Regions from separate parts of the Homo sapiens genome. Here region 2 is linked to region 1. The links come from fine-mapping of genetic effects on gene expression. Tissue or cell type: whole blood. Region 1 holds a variant in brackets; the other region holds the start of a gene. All regions are shown on one strand. Distances are between the middles of the regions.

Region 1 (8,104 bases):
GCTATACTGTTCAAAGGTGTATTGGCTGAGAAGAGGGAGCTTGAACTGGGTGTCAGATTATGGTTTACTGACCGTTTCATTACAGGTTTTTCAGTATACTTAGAAATTCCACTATACTTATTTTTAGAAATGCCATTGAATTGGGAATTTATTTTTTAAAAGTATAAAAGAAATTACCAAAGCATATAAAAATGGAGGCAGGCTCTCAAAATCATCAGTCGCTTAGCGTCAGTCTCATGCCACCTTTTGACCGACTTTATCTTTCTTCTCTTTCTCGTAACACTTACTCTGTTTGAAGTTTACCATGTTGTTTTTAACTTATTTCCACATCTATTCAGCAAATATTTATCAGGCAGCTGCTGTGTGGCAGGCACTGTGCCAGGCACTGGAAATGCAGGAGTGCAGTCAGCAGTGAAGCCTGGGGGGAAGGCACAAGACACACAGCTCTAGGGATAAGCTGCTGCAGTTGTGTCAAGGGCTGTGTCTCAGCTCGGACAGGAAGGAACATGCGTGACTCAGCCAGGCAGAGGAGGCAGAGTGCTCTTGGGAGAGGGTGTGCCTGTACAAAGGCTAGGAGTTTGCGGGCGGGACGGGGCTGAAGGAATGGGGACAGAGCGTGGGTGGTTAGAATTGAGACTAGAGAGGTAAGTAATGATTTGTAGACTATGTCAAGGATTTTGGAAACTGTCCGGAGAGCATTGGGGAGCCATAAAAAACTTTTGAAGTAGAGGAGTGCCATGACCATATTTGTTATTTTAAAAAGATGTCTTTGCTGTATATAGGGTTAAAAGGCAATGCCAGGAAGCCACATCAGAGGCTACTGTAGTGGTCCAAGCAATGGGTGCTGATAGCATAGACTAGAGAGGTGGCAGTAGAGATGGTGAGACCTGGGCAGGCTTGAGAGAGAGCAGATAGAATTGCTCAGACCTGGAAATTGATGTTGGGAGTGAGAGGGAAGGGAAGTAGCAAGGATAACACCCATGGGCTTCTGCACGAGCTGCTGGGTGCATGTTGGTGCCATGTACTAAGAGTACTTAAGGAGGAACAGGTTTGCAGGAAAGGATGGGCCATGTCAGATGTGTGGCGTTTGGAGTGGCGTCCAAATGGACATGGCACTAGGTCGTTTAAAAGATCTAGAGGTCGAAGGAGACTGTGGGCCGGAGGGAGCACTGGGGAAGGCGTCAGTGTGACGGGTCCTTGCCCCAGCCCATGGGAGTGTATAGAATGACAAGGGCAGAGTCAGGACAGCCCTGAGCACCAGCTGTGTCGCTTCAACTCCGTTCCTTTTTTAAAATGTTAATTCACTAGGAAGACCAATTTCTTTAAACACCTCTCTTGAGACATGAGAAAGAAGATAAAAGTAGAAGAGTTTTGCCACCTCTCTTTGGAACCAAGTGAGAAAGACAAGTGTTAATGATGAGCTGAAATAACTCCCCGTGTGAGTGATAACTAACGTCCTAAATCTTGGTCCCAGTGATTACGACTGAAGCATTCATATGATATGAGCTGGGTATACTCTAGGACACCGAGTTTTTTCATGAAGTTGAAACTCTTGCATGCTGTCAGGGAGTTTGCGACAGTCTAGGTACTTTAAACAAATGCGCTTACTAATTGTGTAATGATGTCACTGAGCTTGGCACCCCATGTAGGGATTCTGTCTTTCCTGTCCCCTATTCCCTGTCCCCCAACCCCTTGCTTCATTAAGACTTGCTGATTCAAACTCACTCTGGTTGAGGTTGAGTGTTTCTCTTTGTTCCAAAGGGTAGTGGCAGGCATATTTAAAGTAACAATTGTACAGAACACTCTTTAATGATGGCCTCTTATTTGAATCATCCCAGACAAAGAAATATTGCTAGATCCTGTAAATCTTCCAAGAAAAGATTTTGCGGATTTTAGACCCACATGTATGTTGTTTTGTTGTGAAGTATCTGGCTTCTCTCAATGTAGGAACTTTTTATTTTATTTTTTTTTGAGAGGAAGTCTGTTGCCCAGGCTGGATGGAGTGCAGTGGTGCTACCTCGGCTCACTGCAGCCTCTGCCTCCCGGGTTCAAGCAGTTCTCCTGCCTCAGCCTCCCAAGTAGCTGGGACTACAGGCATGCGCCACCACGCCTGGATAATTTTTGTATTTTTAGCAGATACGGGGTTTCACCATGTTGTCCAGGCTGGTCTCAAACTCCTGACCTCAAGTGATCCGCCCATCTTGGCCTCCCAAAGTGCTGGGATTACTGGCATGAGCCAGCATGGCTGGCCTCAATGTAGGAACTTTTGCAGTAGCTACGTAAAAAATAGATTCCGTATGGACCTTCCATCATATGCAGAGCCCTCTTGTCTTCCTTTGTAGATTATTCACTGACCAGCGCTGACCTGTCAGCCCTTCAAGGCTTCAACTCGCCAGGAATGCTGTCGCTGGGACAGGTGTCGGCCTGGCAGCAGCACCACCTAGGACAAGCAGCCCTCAGCTCTCTTGTGTGAGTAACTAGAAGTTTTCCCTGCATCTTTACTCCTGGCCTACACACTCTCTTTTCCTATCAGTGACAGCCTTTTGCTCTGTTGAGTTTCGTGTGAGGAATCCTGTAATGATTCCTTTTCAGGTAGATACAAGTGTCGGGAGAAAATATTTTCTTACATGGCTCTAGACAGTAGCTTGGATACTGACAAACTAGGCATTCCTTGAAGGGATTTGGGGAGCAAGGCTTCTCCCATAGGGACATCCTGAGGTAGAGAGACTCAACCAGGATCTGAAGGGGTCTGAAGGCACAGATACCACCCGCATGCACCATCCTTCTGCCCTCTGACCAGTGATGAAGCTGCCTACTGCACCCCTGCTCCCAAGCACCTGCCTCTGGCTGCACTGCTTGAAAGGCAGCCTGTAGGCATTCAGGCCTCCCTGCCACCCTTGCCATTGACTGCTTTGGTGAGTATCTGTAGACAAGAATAGGAAGACAAGCTGGAGCTTTTGCTTTCTCCCTGGGCCACAGGGAAGGAAAACTGGGGACAGGGTGTCTTATATATCAGTCAGGCTCCATAGGATTTGTGTGACTGATCCCAGCCCAATGCACACACCAAACCTCATTCACAAAGAGAATGTTCCGTATGGGCAGGGTGTAAGGATATAAGCAAAGAGGATTTACAGTGGCGCCCAGATGAGGCCAGACATCCCTGACAGCCGGGAGAAAGAACAGGGCTTTTGTGGAACCAGGATGACAGCAGACCCATGGAGCAGTTGGAGGAGAGTGTCCCAAGAGAGGGGACAACATAGCAGACCCAGCTGGCCTCCATGAAGACTGGCTGCCTTGCCTGTGCTCTGGGCAGTAGGAATACCCCAGGCCCCTAGCCTCTGCCCAGGAAGTCCCCAGAGAGCCTGAGCTCAGCAGTCCCTTTCCCTCATCCATTCTGAAGTAACTGCACAGTGAGGATTGTTGTCAGTGGTCTTCTTAGGAATTATGTCATGGAAAAAGCAGCAGAGTATCTCAGGGAAATTTGCCTACACAGGATTTGGCCCTCAGGCCTGTCCTGAGCATCCTAAATGAATGCACTAAAAATAGTCCTGGAAAAGCAAGTGGAAAGGGCTCAGAGCCCAGGCCCGGGGAACAGCCTGTTTGCGTCCTCCTCTACTGCTCTCAGCCAGCCCCTCATTTCCTCATCTGGAAAATGGGGATGGTGCGACTTGCACCTTAGAGGTGTTGCGAGGATGAGCGATGTTGTGCCCTGTCACAGGGCCAGAGCAGATGGGGAGCAGATGCTGAGGAAGAAGAGGCGGTGAGCAGATGAGGCTGCTGTTCCTCTGTCTTTCTGGTCCCTGCACAGCATTAAGACACTGACATTGTTTTGTATACTTTAGCTGCAAAAGTACCAACGTTGTGGGTAACAGAACCAAGTAACGTAAGGGCTCAACGGTACTGTTTTCTTTCCTCCTAGGAAGATGGGATTTCCTTTTGTGCCAAGCACTGAAGGAAACGACCCAAACCAGTCTTGGGGAACTCTGATAAGATTTCAGACTCTGGGCCCTTTTCCATCAGGCAGTGTCTCTACTGTATCATCCCAGTTTTGCAGAGGTACTTGCAAGCCATCTGACCTCTCTCTTTTTTTTCCTTCAGTGCTGGAGGGCAGTTATCTCAGGGTTCCAATTTATCCATTAATACCAACCAAAACATCAGCATCAAGTCCGAACCGATTTCACCTCCTCGGGATCGTATGACCCCATCGGGCTTCCAGCAGCAGCAGCAGCAGCAGCAGCAGCAGCAGCCGCCGCCACCACCGCAGCCCCAGCCACAACCCCCGCAGCCCCAGCCCCGACAGGAAATGGG[G/T]CGCTCCCCTGTGGACAGTCTGAGCAGCTCTAGTAGCTCCTATGATGGCAGTGATCGGGAGGATCCACGGGGCGACTTCCATTCTCCAATTGTGCTTGGCCGACCCCCAAACACTGAGGACAGAGAAAGCCCTTCTGTAAAGCGAATGAGGATGGACGCGTGGGTGACCTAAGGCTTCCAAGCTGATGTTTGTACTTTTGTGTTACTGCAGTGACCTGCCCTACATATCTAAATCGGTAAATAAGGACATGAGTTAAATATATTTATATGTACATACATATATATATCCCTTTACATATATATGTATGTGGGTGTGAGTGTGTATGTGTGGGTGTGTGTTACATACACAGAATCAGGCACTTACCTGCAAACTCCTTGTAGGTCTGCAGATGTGTGTCCCATGGCAGACAAAGCACCCTGTAGGCACAGACAAGTCTGGCACTTCCTTGGACTACTTGTTTCGTAAAGATAACCAGTTTTTGCAGAGAAACGTGTACCCATATATAATTCTCCCACACTAGCTTGCAGAAACCTAGAGGGCCCCCTACTTGTTTTATTTAACTGTGCAGTGACTGTAGTTACTTAAGAGAAAATGCTTTGTAGAACAGAGCAGTAGAAAAGCAGGAACCAAGAAAGCAATACTGTACATAAAATGTCATTTATATTTTCCAACCTGGCATGGGTGTCTGTTGCAAAGGGGTGCATGGGAAAGGGCTGTTGATATTAAAAACAAACAAAACAAAAAAGCCCCACACATAACTGTTTTGCACGTGCAAAAATGTATTGGGTCAAGAAGTGATCTTTAGCTAATAAAGAAAGAGAATAGAAAACACGCATGAGATATTCAGAAAATACTAGCCTAGAAATATAGAGCATTAACAAAGTAAAATTAATATATTAAGTTATAATTGGAATATGTCAGAAGTTTCTTTTTACATTCATATCTTAAAAATTAAAGAAACTGATTTTAGCTCATGTATATTTTATATGAAAGAAAACACCCTTATGAATTGATGACTATATATAAAATTATATTCACTACTTTTGAACACATTCTGCTATGAATTATTTATATAAGCCAAAGCTATATGTTGTAACTTTTTTTTAGAGAATAGCTTTATCTTGGTTTAACTCTTTAGTTTTATTTTAAGAGGGGAAAACAAAAATATCTTGCAAGCAGAACCTTGGAAAAAAAAAGCCATGAACACTTATTCTAAATGTAAATTAAAAGTTGAGCCAAACTCTTTGTGTATATAGCATCTTAAATATATTATCACCTTTGATGTAAGTACCTATGTATTGTATGGTCACCAGATTAAAAAGTATATTTTTGTGGATTGCCGCCAATCTGGGGGGAAAAGGCGAGGTCCTTTATTAAGTATTCACTGTTTAATATTTACTATTTTGTTAAATATACTGTACTTTGGATTTTAATTATTAGCCCAGTTTTTTCAGAGGATTGTATAAAGGGGTTTCTCCCCTCACTGGTGGTGAATGTGTGATGTTACATTGTAATCTTTGTGCTGTATGGGTTGAGCATCATTATATATTTTGTATGTGTACATAAATAGCAAAGTGGCAAAAAAAATTGGTGTTAAGTTCATCCTGCATAAGTATAAAATGTGTTGTAACAGATTTTGTAAGGCATTATTTAAAACTTGCCTTTTGTGAGGAAAAAATGTAGTAGAAAAAGCTGACCTAATTTAATTAATATTAGAGAAAATGGCAAAATAGTAGATGAGCACAAAGGTTTTATAAGTGGTAAATGATTAGGGGAAAATAATCATGGGGAAAGGGATCTTTTTTCCTTGACCCTCTGAAAACAGAACGATGCAGCTGGTTACAAAATCCTACCGTTATCAGCTCTTCTGCACATTGCAGTGATGCTTTGGTATGCGGGGAGAAACACTCTTAGGGTGCTGGTCCTTGGCATGACTCTTGCCATTCTAATTGGAATTAGTGCCACCCTCAGCTTGGATTTTGAACAAGGCCTTATTCTTTCAGGAAGACAACTAATGGATGATAGCAAGTTCATCCACTTACTGGGCTTGTGCCATGAGCAAAATTCAAAGTCCTGTATATCTTTCATTGTAGATTTTTAAATACTCCTTTTCCTAAAAAACTCAAGGGTTTAAAAATTGCTATTTTATATTTTAAATGATATTGAGCAGCTACCTACAATTTCTATGTACATTTTGTTCCCCCCCCCCCACCCCCCCCCCAAATTACGTTCCTTTTGACATTTTCCTCATCTGCTGTTTGTGACAAGTCATCAGCCAGATTTCCTGACTGACACATAGGTATGATCAGTGCAGGAGAGACCTGCGCACCACAGGCTGCAAACTGGAGGTTCTGTTCTCATGGCAGTTTGGGCAGTAACTTTTGAGAGAGGCCAAAAAAAGGAGGATGACATGCTGTCTCCTCTCTTCAGTATAGACATTAGGCTCTTATTCAGAAAGGATTTTTCTTTAAAAATGTACTTACTTTACTGAACTACTTACAGGCACATTTCTTCATAAGGCCACACCTAATCCAAACAAGACAGTCTCCCAACACTGAAGTTCCAAAATAATCCTTACCACTTTGTAAACCATTTATAGCTTTGAAAGTGTTAAGTGATTCCTTCGTTATTATTTATGCATGTTCATGAACTTCTGCTGTACATTGGAATAGGAGTTAACACATTCACATTTACTGTCTATTTTCTTGTGTGCCTTATGAGATGGCTTTTCTGACTGTATCTCAATAGTCTTTCTTTCTATGCAGGTTTATAATCAGTACAACTACTGTTTTCTAAAATACTACTACTCAAGGCTCGGAGTTTGTATTTAAATTACACTGACCAAGTAACAATGTATTCCATTTCAGGAACTGAATATTTGACTGTTAACCTTTTTCCCATACGTCCAGTGTGGCATGGAGCATATGGACTTGACAGACATCTCTCACCCAGACGCCCACGTGTGAACACACCCACATCCACATCTCTGGGTGGAAACCAGCCTAGAGAGGGGACGACGCTAATGGTGTTGCTTTAGAACCGTCTTTTCTTACCCTTTTAGACTCGTGTTTTGTATGAGACACCATTGCAAGAAAATTTTATCCCTCCAGAAGTATTTTATTACTAAAGAACAAAAGCAAAAAAAGCTTAAATTGCACTGGTTAAAGTACAGTTTCCAACAGCTGTCCTTCCTCAGTACTCTAATGGCCACTCCACCGCGAGTGGAAGTCACTGTTGTGTGTACACAGGTGGTCCCAATCAAAACTCCATCTTTTGAGCCCAATTATGTCCATTTTGTTATAGACTAAATCAGGGGTTTGTTCTACAAGAACAATACATGTTTTACCCTTTCCTTTAACTAGAAGGATAACTAGTAATGCATCAACATAATTTCTGTATTAACCATCATGCGCACAAGAAATACATAGTAAATAAGGAAGCTGAAAACTCCTGGCATTGGATCTTAAGCTAGATGATTAGAATGTGAAAAAGATTTTACAAATGTAAAACTTCTATTTCTCTGTAGAAACTTTCTTCACTTTGCTGTGCAAGAAGACACTGCTTTGCTATATTTAAAATGGCTTTTTTAAAAGAGATTTATGTATTTGGTAAATGTTTGTAGTCAACAGTTCACACAAGAAGCTGTACACGGTTTGATCATGTAAAACCGTTTGGCGGCACAAGCTGGACTTTGTTGCCATCCTTGAGATGAACCTTTTAAGAAAAATAAGTTAATCTCAATTTTTCCCTGAATGTGTTGTTTTTCTTCATTATACAATAAATATAATAGTGAAC
Region 2 (8,104 bases), 150 kb before region 1:
GGTCAGCAAGCCAGTGAGTTGTGACTTCTAAACAGCTTTCTATTTTGCCCCTGCTTTCTCATTTGTATCAGGAAACTGCCTTCATTCAGGTCCTCTTTCTTATCTCAGGTAGCATCGGCATCAAATAGGTCCCCTGAGAAGTAGACTCCCAAAGATTCTGGTGAAGGTAGAGTGTTTGGAAGGTGATCCCAGGAAGTGAGAGAGGGGAAAGGAGAAGAGGTAACAGAAGTGTGCAAATGGGTAGGTCACCACTGCTGTCAATGGGTGCCCAATCTACTGGGACATCCCATCCCTCCACAAGAGACTTGGGGGAGCATGCCTCAGAAATGTCTTCCTGAGTTTTGAGGAAGCTGGGATATTTATCTACGAAGACCAGCCCTCTAAGCTAGAGCATGCTCTCAAACACAGACACACAGGAAGTCATCAGCATGTGTGGGAACTTTGTGAAGATCTTTGGAGATGAGGGCGGGAGGGGGTCTGACAACATCAGTACCTCCTAACTGGTTGTTTTGCCTCCAGGCTTGCTCTCCCCACCAACCACTACTCCCTAAGTAGTCTTTCTAAAATGCCAAATAGCTCAAGCTCCTCACCTGCTTAAAATCTGTCAGGGGTTCAGAATAAAATCCAAATGGCTTGATCTTGACATGTTAATGATCTGCGCCATCTCATTCCCAGCTACTCTTTTAGCTGCTTCCCAGTACTCAATGCAGACTCCAGGCACACTGTGCTAGCTGTCGGGTCTCAGAGCCACACTCGAGGTCCCCGCACACAGCGCTCCCTCTGCCTAAGGTCTGCTCATAAATATTTAAGAAACATTTATTTGATTTTCTAGGACATTCCAGGCATTGTGCTAGACACAGTGAATACAATAAAGAATAAGTTACAGTTTTAGTCTTCAAGGAGCTCACTCTCTAAAGGGAGGAAACAGACATACAAAAAGAAATACACTATTCGTTGAGTAAAACCCCATATTAGAGAAAATGATGCCTAAGTGGAGACTTGATGGATTGACTTGATGCAGAGTTTACCCTGCAGACAGGAGGAAACGGGCTGGTGTGTACAGAGAAGCTTCTCAAATTTCTGAATGGAGAAAGTGGGGTGTCAGGAAGAAGAGGTGAGGGAGAAGCTGGCCAAGTCGTCAGGGGTTCCTTTGGCTTCTAGGCAGCTTGAGCATTATTCTTCTCATCAAGACACAGTGAGGGCCCTTTTTTCATCCTACCAGGAGGTTTTCCAGATTCACTGTGGGCATTATGTCCTCTAAGAAGCCTACCCTAATTCTTGTCCCTCCTTAGACACTCATCATCTGTGCTCTTCCTGCACTCTAGGAAACCCCTCATGATGGGTTGTGTTTTAAGGTGTATCCTCCCCACGGCCTGCCAGCCCCTTTGAAGAAAGGGCTGCTCTTTCTCACCTCTGTATCTCAGTGCCTGGCCCAGTGCACAGTCCCTGCAGCTCAGAAACATCTGGACCCCTGAGTGCCTTTAAGGAGGCCAGAGGGGAAAGACTGACAGATGCTGCTCCTCAGTTCCCTCCAAGCCAGTGGCACACGTAAGTGCTCGGCACAGGGTCTTTCTGAGCGCTCGAAGTTGCTAGAGACGCTAGACTTCAGGTATAGGTTTTCAACAGCTGAAACAGAGGCTGTGGCAATTTCCTAAAATTGGTTGCTTTTACTACAAATAACAGTGATTGTGCTCTGCTAATAGCTGTGCTCCACAATTCTTAAACTTAGCCTTCCACTTTTCCTTCTCTCCTTCCTTTCCTTCCTTCCTTCTTACCACTGCCTGCAATTCTCAGACAAGGGCTTTGACATGCAGAGTGGTGGGGAGAGAGGTGCTCTTTAAGGTGATGCAAACACTCTTTTCATTTCTGCTGTGGCTGGACTCATAGTTGAGTTCTCTGCTTGACATTTTGAGGGTAACAATAGCATTGGAATGGGTAAGGGCTGGGCAGTCTGAGCTGAGTCTTCTGTGCCTCAGGAGGCTCAATTTCTGGAAGGGTGGGAGCCGGAGTGGAGCAATAAGGGTGAAAACATCTTTTGGAACAGTCTGTTTTCATTGCCTCTTCTTCCAGGGTGACAGCAGGTGGCAAGGAGAGGGCCACTGATCACTGTGCCCCCACTCCAGACCCTAAGTTTTAAAGGATAAGTATTAAACTCTTCTCGTCCTCTTGGAGCAGAAGAGCCAAATCCAGCCGGCTCTGCAGCTTCTGGCAGGTTAAAAAGCATGCATTTCCACATGACTTGCTGATTTACACCACATTTTGACATGTTTTAAAAACCTCCCTGCAGTTCCTTTTGCTGGCTCCCCTGAACACTGGTGTTGTGGAGCTCTGAGCAGAGCTCCAGGTTTATTTTCTGGCGTCTGCTGTCTATGTGCCGCCTTTGTTTTGGGCTCTCCCCAGCACATTGCCCCGTTGTCCTTGAGGGAGGAAGCCAGCCAGTCTCTGGCTTCCTTTGTAACTTCCCAGTTCCTCCACTCACAGCCTCTGCTCATCTGCTCACCCACCCCAACCACTTTGTTTTAAGTGCTGCGGGATTGAATTTCTCATCTTCAAATGCAAACAACCATTTGGCTTCGTGTCCATTACACAGGCACCTCTGGGGGCACATGCAGGCACTGTGGCCCCGAAAAACTCTTCAGAGGTGAGCGGCTTTCAGGATGAGAGGGCCAACAATGGCTCATCTCCTAAAGACCTCGATAAACATAATCAGTAGCCCCAGAAAACACAACAGCTGTCCCAAGCCTATCCCCTTTGCACCTATCTCAGAAAAGGCAACATGCAGAGTGGTCAGGAGTTCAAGTCCTCAGGGCCCTACTCTGAAGCTGTGACCCTGACAGGTCACTTTAGCGCTCAGCTTCCCTTTCCTCATCTGTAAAATGGGAATAGAAACTGAATCTGCTTCATGGGGCCTTGTAAGTATTACATAAGCTGTCATATGCAAAATGTCCATCACATAGTTCACCGCCCCAGGCATCCTAGAAACTATTAAGTCACGATAAGGAGGTTGCTACTGTCCTGGGACCTGGGGAGCTCGGCTGTCCAGTCCGAAAGGGCCTTCTCGCCCTCGAGACCCCTTCAAGTCCCTTTCTCTCCGGGCCCGGGTCCCAGAGTCCCCTTGTGCTTGCTCCTGAGGGTGACCTGCCCGTGCCCCGGGGCGAGCACAGGTGCGGCCCTGGCCACAATGCGGGCGTGGCGAGCCGACACCCGGGGAGGCCAAGGGCGCCTCGAGGGAGGGAGGGAGGAGGCTGACCCGGGCGTCCCGAAGGACCCGCCCGGCCCCGGACTCCGGGCGGCAGCCGGCCTCGCGCCCCGCCCCCGCCCCGGGAGCCCCGCCCAGTCCCGTCGCGCCGCGCCGCCCCACCGCCCGGGTTGGCTGCCCTGGAGGCCACGCGCGGCGATTTGCCACGCGCCGCGTCACCGGGCCGCTCCCGGCCTGGGCTCCCGGGGGCTGGTCAGGGAGGTGGCGGCGGCTGAGCGGCGGAGCGGGGGCGGCAGGGCGCGACGCCGCCGGGCCGCCCCGCCCTGGGAGGCGCCCGGGCCCTCATCAAGTGACCAGTATCCCTTCCAGGGGAACACGGTCCTTCAGAGGAAAGCGAGCTCCAACCCGCGGCCCCGGCGCCAAGCCGCCGTCATCTTCTTCCTGTGCCAGGTGATCGTCTCCTCACCCACCCGGAAAAACATAGTCCGCCCCCACGTCCTTGTGGAATAGCGCCCGCTTCCAAGCACCGTGACTCTCTTTGCCCTACCCTTGTCTTTCCCATTCCAATTACTCTAGAACCCACCGAGAGGATAATTCAGTCCTGAAAAGAAACTGATGGGGAGAAGCGAGGAAGGGAACCCAGGAGGGAGGGGAGGCAGGGCTGCGGAGGGACACCGAGGCGGCGGAGGTAGTGCGCACGCGCAGCACAGAACGAGTTCCGGTCTGGCCGAGGCTTGTCTCCTAAAAATAGCCCCGGTGTGGGGATCCGTGCGCGGATGTCCCGGCGAGTCCCGGGCTGAAAGAGGCGGCTCCGGGCGGCGCGAAGCGCTGGTGGCGGGCCCGGGCTGCGGCGTGTGCGCGCCCGCCAGCTGCTCCGGAGATACGGTGAGGGCCGCGGGCAGCGGGGCTCAGTCCGCGACGCCGGTAGTGCTGGAGGGGGGCGGCGTCTCGCTTAGGGGACCGAGTAGGGGTTGGGGTGGAGGTGCTGGGGCGGGGGACGGCGCGGCCGAGAGGGTCGCCCGGGGGGCTCCGGGGACCCCTGGACGAGGCCGTGTCCGGCTTGGAGGGGGCCAGGGTCGCGTTCGCGCATTGGCGGGGCGGGTAGGGTGCTGGGAGGCGGGTAGGGTGCTGGGAGGCGGCGAGGGGTGGTCGGGTCGGGGTCGGCGCTGAGGAGCTAGGCGCCCGGGGAGGTGGGGGCGGGGTGCCCTGAGGGCGGGCCGGTGGGGCTGGATGGGGCTCGGCTGGGCGGGCCGAGGGGAGCTCAGTCGCGCGGGCTGGTGGCGAGCAGCCTCCCCGGGCGCGCACCCCTTGGGGCCGGGGGGCGGTGGTGGACGTCGCCTCCTTGAAAGTTGAAGGAGTTCTCGGGAGACCCCGGAGAAGGTGCGCTCTGAGGGCCCTTTCCTTCCCCTTTTCCCTCCAAGCCCGGGGGTCTCCCCGAAGGGATTAGCCCCAAGTGCGGGGGGCCTTCTGCCCTGTTGGACTTGAAGAAGTTCCCCCACTTCTGCTTTGGGAGAAGATTGGTCTAACGGGGTGGAACGCTTAGGTACGAATTCTGTGAGTGTGTAGATGTCAGTGGCGGGGTCGGTGTTTGGGGCGGACACCTGCGGTTGCGGACGCCCGATCGTGCGGGGAGACGTCGCGGGGACAGAGGGGCTGCACAGGGAACCGCTGGCTGAACCCCTGCCATCCGGCTAGATCCCAGCTCGCAGAAAATATTTTTTGTGTTAGAAACTTTGCTTTTTGGCTCGATTTCATGCCTTTGAGCTGTGAGGGTTAAAGTAAGTGAGATAGTGCAAACAAGTTTGGAAAAGGTGAGCAATCCTGAATAAGAAAACAGTTTTTCTTTAAAAGTGTAACTATAGAATTGTTGCTCACATCCGAAATAGATTCCGGAGCTGTGAAGCGAGCCTCCTGTTATGGTCCAGCAGGGAACCGTGTGTAGCTTGAATATAACATAGTGTTAACCTGCGTTTTAGTTTACAGTGAGATTGGGATTCCAATAAATGCCCTATTAGAAAGGCCTGCTGTGATGTGTTAACAATAGCATATGTATTTTTAAACAAACATTGTCTTAACATTTTTTCGGGTTTTTAGCACAGTATGTTTCCCATGTGTCTTGTATCATCTATTACTATATGAAGAGGAGGTTCTCTAAAGCTGTAATTAGGTGTACATTACCCAAGAGTACTTTCCCTTTAAGAATCCAGCTGTGTTGTTTTGGCAACTGCTAAGTACTCTAGTTGTCAGTTTTAGAATCTGTGTTACCTTGGCAGTTCTTGAACAGTCTGTGGAAAAGGTAAACAAAATAGTTCTTTTTTAAACATACAAAAATGACATTTCTTTTAATATGAATTTAGGAAGTGAGGATAAAAATGACTGCATTGTGCCTTTATGGCTTTTGTATGTACTGTGTGTGTGTGTGTGTGTGTGTGTGTGTGTGTGTGTATTTTTGGAGAGCTCAGTCTCCATTTCTTTTTCTGTAAATTACAACTTTTGTTTTAGGGAATCAAGAGTTTTCACTAAAGCAGATGCTGATTTAGATTAGTTTATATTAAATGTCATAAACACACACCTGTATATCATAAAACATTAAGATCAGTATTTGTTATATATGGTGACACATTGACAATAGAATCACCTTTATTTTAATTCTCAGTGAGCATTGTTGCAAAAAGTTGTGATAATGGTGTTACAATAATCAAAAGTACTCTGAAGAGCTAAAACTGGTGATTTGAATGTTTGTAGACTCTAGATTAACAGTTTTGTTGAAGAGTGTGGTTCCAGTAGCTACTTAGTGAAAACAGTGACTGTGAAGTAATGGTGACCTCTCTAAACGCAATTATTTGCTTACCTATTTCCTTTAATTCACACTATGGTTATATATAAAATTGTGGTTTGATTTCATATTAGAACAAAAGTGTTAAAATTACACTTTACTTGCCTTCAAAAGTTTTTTAAAAAATTAAATTCTGGGGGGTGTTCAGTGGAAGGAAAATAGCTTATTGACACCCAGAAATAATTGTAATGTCACCATGTTGAATTATGGTTTGAGAATAATTTCCTTCTGTATTCTTAGAGTTTGTTTTCATATGGGTATGTGTGACAAGGATTTTTTTTTGTAAATGCAGTTGGAAATAATCTCTTAAAAAGGTTGAGTTGTTTCAAATGGTGATGTTATGTTTTTCAAAGCAATTTCGTTACAATTTGCCTTTTCCATCATGCATTGTGGGTTAATATTAATTTTATTAATATTCCAGCAATAGCAGTGTCATCCATTAATTGGCTACCAAAAAGAGGAATATTGAATTATATTCTGAGGGTGGTTAAGAAATTATGGAAATGTTTATTAGAATATGATTTTGGAGTTTGAAATAGTCTAGCTAAATCTTTTCAGTAGATTTGTGTTCTGATTTAGGAGGAAGAAGCCATGAACAAATTTGTTACTGAAAAATAGCATGCTTGTCAGTTTGGAAAACCATCTTTTTTCCTCCCTTTGCTGCTTTTAGTCTGGCAAGAAGAATGTAGTGTAATATACGATGATGATGGGCCTGGATTTGGGGGCATTTCTAATTTCACATATTCTGTGTTGTCATCAGACCATACCCCGGTTACTCATGGTACATATGAATGTTTCAAAGTCTAGCTGAAGTTTTCTTTTATGCGATGACACTATGAGAAAACCATTTGTGGACCAAAAATGATCACTATTTCTTTTTTCTAGATAAGAAAGAAAATCTGTGGATTCTTAGTAAATGGAGAAGTGAGTGCCTTCTCTCCTAATGTTTAAATAATAAGTGTAAATATGGAAATCAGATCACCCTTTAAGCTGGATAACCTCGTGCAAGAGAATGCTTTTAACATATGCTGATTTGCAAGCCCCAGTAAAGGAAGGCTGCTTGACTCTGTAGTCAGATCTTGATTCAGATCCAGCTCCACTGCTGACAGAGTTGAGATATCTCCTGTAAAATGAGATAGAATTACACTACCTGCCCCGTGTTGGAATTAAATGAGATAGCGAGTGTAAAAGTTCTAACACACTGCGTGAAGCTTCATGTGCGAAAATGCGTATTGCCTGATCTCCCTGCATCCCTTCTGGCTTTTGTTTCTTCTTTCCTCTGAAGATTATGTAGGTACCCTGCCCAGTACCCATACGTTTAGTGTTTGTGACCAAAAGGATTTCGTATAATGTATCAATAGAGAATGCTTAATGTGTTTGTTTTGGATAAAATATCCCAGCATCTTAAATTCATTGTCAGATTATACATAAAACGCTTAATTGGCTGTTTTAAAACATTAGAATTTTGATCTTCAACCATAGTTTGTTTCTAATCTCCATAATCTCCCCAAATATTTTTCTAAAGATTCAAGTTAAATATAAATAGTTTCCCAATCTTCAGTGAATTCTGTCTTTTAGGGATTGACTGTGGGAGTGGTCTCTAAGATATAGTATTTGAAATTTAAAGTTAGAAGAATACTTCTGTAATCTACCTTGAATAGGTATTTTAAAATAGCTTAATTTCTGAAGAAAAGTTTTTAAATATTTTAATATTGAAGGTTATTTTAATATTTTAAAGTAACTTTAGTTAATCTGTAATTTTTAAAATACTTTGATTTGGTGTGAAATTAATGATTTTCTCGTGTATAGTTTATCTGTGTGCCTTATAATAAATGGACCTTGTGTCCAGTTTATTATAATTAAGAGTGTAAATCCATTTGTTAATTAGTAAATCTTACACATAGCACACGATATAGGTTGGTACTTATTTAATAAGTACTAAATTTTTATATAGATGCTTTATACTTTAATAATATTTATATTTACAGAATTTAATTGATATTTACTGAATTTAATATTTTAATTATTAATTATCTTAGTCGAGATGAAATCATAAGCATATGAGTTAA

The links. PIP is the estimated chance that this variant, and not a neighbour inherited with it, causes the effect.
Region 2: MEF2A starts here. The variant in region 1 is fine-mapped to the expression of MEF2A in whole blood (TOPMed, PIP above 0.99).

The regions. Positions count from the first base shown.
Region 1 is chr15:99,708,292-99,716,395 of GRCh38, forward strand. It overlaps MEF2A (myocyte enhancer factor 2A), which reads left to right. Exons shown (of 12, transcript NM_001319206.4): 11 at 2,343-2,469; 12 at 4,099-8,104. The coding sequence ends at 4,480. It also overlaps a transcript of LYSMD4 not described here. Among named protein-coding and RNA genes, the nearest start is that of LYSMD4, 21 kb to the right of the region's middle. The variant G/T (reference allele first, on the strand shown) is at 4,309.
Region 2 is chr15:99,562,021-99,570,124 of GRCh38, forward strand. It overlaps MEF2A (myocyte enhancer factor 2A), which reads left to right and starts at 3,964. Exons shown (of 12, transcript NM_001319206.4): 1 at 3,964-4,084. RefSeq lists silencers at 3,135-3,574, 4,415-4,464 and enhancers at 3,286-4,261, 4,262-5,235.